Homo sapiens: one gene and its partner. The protein of the gene in region 1 interacts with the protein of each later gene in a pairwise test. Each region holds a gene or a part of one and is shown in the gene's direction. Other genes may lie near its edges.

The links. The genes of interacting proteins can lie anywhere in the genome.
Region 2: the proteins of ZSCAN32 (region 1) and MAD1L1 interact in binary tests that used the Homo sapiens proteins (3 or more experiments, as listed by UniProt).

What each region holds. Positions count from the first base shown.
Region 1 is NC_000016.10:3,391,005-3,394,504, reverse strand, and holds part of ZSCAN32 (zinc finger and SCAN domain-containing protein 32), read left to right. Parts: intron 1-690; coding exon 691-856; intron 857-3,500.
Region 2 is NC_000007.14:2,215,946-2,219,445, reverse strand, and holds part of MAD1L1 (mitotic spindle assembly checkpoint protein MAD1), read left to right. Parts: coding exon 1-114; intron 115-1,402; coding exon 1,403-1,484; intron 1,485-3,158; coding exon 3,159-3,289; intron 3,290-3,446; coding exon 3,447-3,500. UniProt on the Homo sapiens protein: Component of the spindle-assembly checkpoint that prevents the onset of anaphase until all chromosomes are properly aligned at the metaphase plate.

The sequences.
Region 1 (3,500 bases):
ATGAGGTGAAGAGAGAGGACCAATGCGAGGTCTCTTTTGAAGACAGAACTGATACTGGATTTGGGGGGCAGAGGAAATGGCCTAGTGCTGAAGTCATGGGGGTTTGCTAAAGTGAAAGCTGACATTCTCTCTTCTGACAAATATATTTCAGTTTTTAACAGTTCTGGTGTGTCAGGCTCTATGCTAGGTGCTGTCATATAAATAATCTTAACCACTTCAAAGAGTTTTTTTTTGTTTTTGAGACAGAGTCTTGCTGTGTTGTCCACGCTGGAGTGCAGTGGCGTGATCTTGGATCACTGCAACCTCCGCCTCCTGGGTTCAAGTGATTCTCCTGCCTCAGCCTCCCAAATAGCTGGGGTTACAGATTCACACCACTACACCCAGCTAATGTTTGTATTTTTAGTAGAGACGGGGTTTCTTTCACCTTGTTGCCAGGCTGGCCTTGAACTCCTGACCTCACGTGATCCACCTGCCTCGGCCTCCCAAAGTGCTGGGATTACAGGCGTAAGCTACTGCCCCTCAAATACCTAATTCTATTAATTTTTATTTTATTACAGCAGCAATACAGTGGCTCCTAGATTTTTCTCTTCTGCTTCCTTATGTTACACATTTTTTAATGCCACTCTTAGGAGTTGTAAAGTCCAGCTTAGGCAGGAATTTGTAGTGATAGATAATGGGGTCTGTTCTCAGGTTCTAGATTCTGAGAAGGACTTGAAAGTACTCATGAAGGAGATGGCCCCTTTGGGAGCAACCAGAGAATCACTGAGATCCCAATGGAAACAGGAGGTTCAGCCAGAGGAACCGACTTTTAAGGGATCACAGAGCTCACACCAAAGACCAGGGGAACAGTCAGAAGGTAAGCAGAAGCCTCTGTCCTCACCTGAGGCAGGTGAGGAACAATCATTTACTGGAAACAAAGGTCTGAACTGAGTCCACCCAAGGGTTCCAGACTAAATGCCTTTGAAATACATCCAAAAACCGGCAGGGCGTGTTGGCTCACGCCTGTAATCCCAGCACCTTGGAAGACCAGACAGGCGGATCACCTGAGGTCAGGAGTTCGAGACCAGTCTTGCTAACATCGTGAAACCCCGTTTCTACTAAAAATACAAAAAATTAGCTGGGCATGGTAATCCCAGCTACTCAGGAGGCTGAGTCAGGAGAACTGCTTGAACCCAGGAGGTGAAGGTTGCAGTCAGCCAAGATCGCACCACTGTATTCCAGCCTGGGCTGTCTCAAAGAAAACAAAAAATATATATATATATAAAATATATAAATTTATATATATATATATATATAAATATAAATATATATATAAATATAGAAATATATATATAGAAATATATATATATCTCTCTCCATATCCAAAAGCAAGATTACAAATTTCAGTTGAGGGTAATAGCACTTAAAGTAGGAACAGAGATTCTTTATGTGTTAGCATAATTCTTTTTTATTACAATTCTGTTACTAAAGAATCAGGTGTCATTAAAGGTGAACATGGTTACCTTCACCTTCTGCACAGCAGTTTTTCATATACTTGAAGACATTAAATCCCCTTCCCCATCCAACTTAATCTTTTCCAGAATACATTTTTATTATTTTTGCTTTTCTTCCAGAGCTCTATTTTTTGTTTTTACTTGTCTTAATTTTTTTAGAAAACTTTTTTTGTTTCTTTGTTTTTTGAGACGGAGTCTTGCTCTGTCGCCCAGGCTGGAGTGCAGTAATGCGATCTTGGCTTACTGCAAGCTCTGCCTCCCAGGTTCACGCCATTCTCCTGCCTCAGCCTCCCAAGTAGCTGGGACTAAAGCACCCGCCACCATGCCCGGCTAATTTTTTGAATTTTTAGTAGAGACGGCGTTTCATCGTGTTAGCCAGGATGGTCTCGATCTCCTGACCTCGTGATCCACCTGCCTCGGCCTCCCAAAGTGCTGGGATTACAGGCATGAGCCACCACGCCTGGCCTTAGAAAACTTTTTAAACTAAAAAAATTATCTTGGCTGGGTACAATGGCTTATGCCTGTAACCTCAGCACTTTGGGAGGCTGAAGCGGGAGGATAGCTTGAGCCTAGGAGTCGAGACCAACCTGGGCAACATAACAAGATCCTGTCTCTACCAAAAAAAAAAAAAAAAAATTGTTTTAATTGAGGTGAAGGTCACATAACATAAAATTAACCATTTCAATGAACAATTCAGTTATGCTTAGTACATTCACAGTGTTATGCAGCCATCACCTCTGTCTAGTTTCAAAACATTTTTATCCTCCCGAAAAGGAAACCCTGTACCCATTAAACAGTTGCTCCCCATTCTGTTTCCATGGATTTACCTGTTGTGGACATTTCATATAAGTTGAATCACATGTATTATGTGACGTTTTGTGTCTGCCTTCTTTCACTTTTCATGTTTTGAGCATGTATCAGTACTTTGTTCCTTTTGATGGCTGAATATTCCATTGCATGGATATTCCAAGGGTCTATATTTTTATAAGTCTTTTTCCATAAAGTAATTTGGCTAGATACTTGCTGCCTTTTCTGTTTAATTGGAAGCTGCCATTACAGGTTGCTAGGTAAGTTTTTTTAAGAGACAGGGTCTTGCTCTGTTGCCCAGGCTGGAGTGCAGTGGTGGCATCATAGTTCACTGCTGCCTCAAACTGCTAGGTTCAAGCAGTCCTCCTGCCTCAGCCTCCCAAAGTGCTGGGAATACAGGCATGTGCCACCACATCCAGCCTGAAAAACAGTGTGTCTTGATGATGTTTAAGTTGGCAAACCTGTGTTGATAAACTGGAAAATTGTCTAAGAGATTTTAGTATTTTGTTTTTTTTTTTTTTTTTTGAGATGGAGTTTCACTCTTGTCGCCCAGGCTGGAGTGTAGCGGCATGATGTTGGCTCACTGCAACCTCTGCCTCCTGGGTTCAAGTGATTCTCTTGCCTCAGCGTCCTGAGTAGCTGGGATTACAGGCGCCTGCCACCACGCCCGGCTAATTTTTTGTATTTTTAGTAGAGACAGGGTTTCGCCATGTTGGGCAGGCTGGTCTCGAACTCCTGACCTCAGGTGATCTGCCTGCCTCGGCCTCCCAAAGTGCTGGGATTACAGGCGTGAGCCACCGCGCCCGGCTGATTTTAGTTTTTTTTTAAGCAAAGTTAATACTCTTGTCAACATCTTTATAAACTTTGCCACTTAGCATTTATTTCCTTTTAATCCTTGGGAACACCTGTGTTCTCTGTGTGTGATTTCCAAGGCTTTGGGACAGCAGGGGGCTGTAAGTAAAGAGAAGCAGGACTTGCTGCCTTCCAGGCTAGGCTCCCGCTCTTCCCAGGCCCATGGGCCACTCACAGATCTGGAGTGTTGTCACCTCCCGAAGGGTCACATACCTCTGAGTTGCCACTGAAGTTCCATTAATAAGTCATAGACATGATTCATTTTATTTGTACAATTTTTTTAATTTTCCTGTATTTTTAAGCGATGTCACAGTCATATTTGTACAATTCTTGAAGTTGGAGACTTGA
Region 2 (3,500 bases), on another chromosome or scaffold:
ACTGAAGGGGAGGATCTCGGAACTGCAGTGGAGCGTGATGGACCAGGAGATGCGGGTGAAGCGCCTGGAGTCGGAGAAGCAGGAGCTGCAGGAGCAGCTGGACCTGCAACACAAGTGGGCGGGGCCAGGGTGTGGGGTCGGGGGTCGGGTCACGTGTGGGGGCATGCGTCCCACCTCTCTCCTGGTGGCTGGGTGGGATGTGGATACACTCCCAGATGCTGTCCTAATTCACAGACACTCAAGAGGGGCAGATGCTGAGGCCTCTGGAGCCAGGACCGTGAGCCCAGAAAGTGTCCTGATGTTCCTGGAGCAGAATGGGGGCAGCAACTTCCTCCCCCTCCTTCTTAGAGAGGGCTCCTGCAGAGCCAGATTTTACTTTATTTTTTGAGACAGGGTCTCACTCTGTCGTCCAGCCTGGAGTGCAATGGTGTAATCATGGCTCACTGTAGCCTCAACCTCCTGGGCTCAAGTGATCCTCCTGCCTTAGCCTCCCGAGTAACTGGGTCTGCAAGCATGTGCAGTACACCTGGCTAATTTTTTTTTTTTTGAGATTGAGTCTCGCTGTGTCACCCAGGCTGGAGTGCAGTGGCACCATCTCGGCTCACTGCAGCCTCCGCCTCCTGGGTTCAGTGATTCTCCTGCCTCGGCCTCCTGAGTAGCTGGGATTAGTTTTGCACCTGGCTAATTTTAAAAAACGTTTTGTAGAGATGGCGGTCTCGCTTTGTAACCCAGGCTGGTCTTGAGCTCCTGGCCTCAAGCGATCCTCCTGCCTCAGCCTCCTAGAGTGCTGGGATCCCAGGCTGAGCCGCCGTACCCTGCTGAGGGCTAGGTTGAAAGGGCAGCATCATGTGCCTTGGAGGTGGAGGGGGCGTGGCTGGGAAGGGATGTCCAGGCACAGGGCTGAGCCGAGGCACAGACGTGAGAGCCTTGTCTGGAGGTGCAGTCAGGAGACTGTGGGCATCTCCTGCAGACTTGGACCCTTCCATCAGCAGATGTGGTTTTAGGAGAGTTCTAGTTCCGTAGTAGAGAGGAGAGGTCATTCCTGGGTGGGGCCCTACCGCAGCTGCACCAGGGCTGGGGGTTGCCGCAGGCAGGTGAGAGCTGTGGGTTCCACTGTTGGAGAGGTCCTTGCAGGTGGCCTGGGCTCACTACGCACCCCGTCTGAATGAGCAGACTGAGGCCTGAGAGCCAGCCCACAGGGGCTGGGGCCTGGGACCTTGGGGTACCCATGCAGTGGAGTGTGTGTTGGCGGGGGGCGGGGGGTCTGTGCCGTGGGAGGTCCTGAACCTTGGGGTGGGAATGAACGTATGTGGGTCTGTGCTGGGGCGGGTCTCAGGCTGAGGAGAATTGTTGGCCTTGCCGCATGCCTGTTTCTGTGTGTGATGTATTTTTCTTTCAATAGAAAATGCCAGGAAGCCAATCAGAAAATCCAGGAACTCCAGGCCAGCCAAGAAGCAAGAGCAGACCACGAGCAGCAGATTAAGGTGAGTCACTCCCTGTCAGTGCCTTGTGGACATCCCTGTGGTGGCCTTGACTCTCCTGCCCCTGTCGGCCTTTCTGCGCTGGTGCCGAGCTCCGTGGTCCTTCTGTGAGGTTAGCTGCTGCCCTGTGTGTTGGGCACTGTGCTGGGCACCAGGGATGCCATGGTGAATGAGGCAGATGCTTCCGCTCTTGGGAGCGTGTATTCTAGAGGAGGGAGACTGACCACAAACACCAAGAGAAAATGTCCGTGTGTGTGATGACGTCAAGTGCTGATGAGCGTGAGAAGATGCTACAGGCATAGAGAGGTTGAGAAAGCTGCCCACAGTTGCACAGCTGGAGCTGGGTCTCAGTCAGGGCATCTGACTCAAGCTCAGGCTGTGCCATTTCCCTGCGGAGGACGTGCCAGGGAGACGTTGACTCCAGATCCCTCTCCTGCCTCCTGTTGCCTGGAGAGCAGCCTCCAGACCCTGTGCTCTGGCCGTGCCCTCTCAGCCCTTATGCACCCTCACCTCCAGGCTTCACACCAGCTCTTCCTGGCTGCAGAGCTGCCCGGCACCCCCAGCCTGGCCTCTGCCATGTCCGCTCCTGGTGGTGGTCCCTGGCCCCTCGCAGCCCTCAGTCCACCTCTCAGGATTTTCTGGCTGGCAGGGCGATGGACTCTGTTAGTGTTTGTTGAATGACCGTCTGGTTTGGTCGTGGTTTCATACTCTGCCTGTTCAGTGACTTGCTGCTCACAGATGCCAGCTGTCTGTGTCCCAAGGGGACTGGGTACCGTAGGGAAAAGCCTGTCCTCACTATTGGAAAGACTGAGCTGTCACACGTGCTGCTAGAGTGGCAGAAGTGGGCTTGACACGGGAGGGGTGGGATGTTTTACCATGGAGTGCCATCCTGGACCAGACTTGAGACAGACTTTTGCTCCTGGAGAGCTCCCCGAGGGCAGGTGGTGAGCACAGCAGCCCGGCAGTGTGCAGTGTGAATGCCAGCTCCCAGTACGCGGAGGGCTGGGAGGTCGGCGCTGGGAAGAGCTGCCCTGGAGTGGATGCTGAGGCTCAGTATTGGAAGCAGCTTCGAGGCCCCTGGTGCAGCCCAGGAAGGCCTCCCACAGGAGAGTCCTGAGGCATGGAGGCTGCTGAGGACCTGGGGCAGTTTAGCGAAGGAACTTTGTGACCTCAATGACTTTAATTTTTAATGGATGGTATTTTCTAGAGCAATTTTAGGTTCACAGCAAAATGAGCAGAAGGTAAAGCTCCTGTGTACCCCCTGCGCCCGCTCCTACACACACAGCCTACCCTGGTAGAGTGGAGCACGTGTGACGGTGATGAACCTGCCTGGACACATCAGTGTCACGCAGAGTCCACGGGTCATGCGAGGGTCACTCTTGGAGTGGGACAGTGTATGGTTCGGGCAGATGTAAAATGTTCTATATTTGCCATTAGAGTGTCACACAGAAAAGTTTTACTGCCTAAAAATCCTCTCTGCTCCCCCAGTCAATCCCTGCCTCTCTCCTTCTGAGCCCTTGACAACCCCTTCCTTTCCCAGAACGTCCTGTGGTTGGATCCTGCAGTGTGTATAGCCGTTGCAGACCGGCTTCCTTCTCTTAGCCGTGTGCGTGTGATTTTCTCCAGGTCTCTTCGTGGCTCATTTTTCCCTTCTTCTCTGTCCCTGGCCTCCATCAGGATCTGGAGCAGAAGCTGTCCCTGCAAGAGCAGGATGCAGCGATTGTGAAGAACATGAAGTCTGAGCTGGTACGGCTCCCTAGGCTGGAACGGGAGCTGAAGCAGCTGCGGGAGGAGAGCGCGCACCTGCGGTGAGGGGTTGCGGGGGATGGGGCAGCCGCCTCGAGTGAGTCTGGGTTTGTGCACATGGAGCCCACTGTGCAGACCCTGTAGGGGCAGGGCTCCCGGGCTCTTGGCCTTATCCCTAGGGTGTGTGGCTATTTGAGCGACTCTTTGTGGCACTGCCAGGGAGATGAGAGAGACCAACGGGCTGCTCCAGGAAGAGCTGGAAGGGCTGCAGAG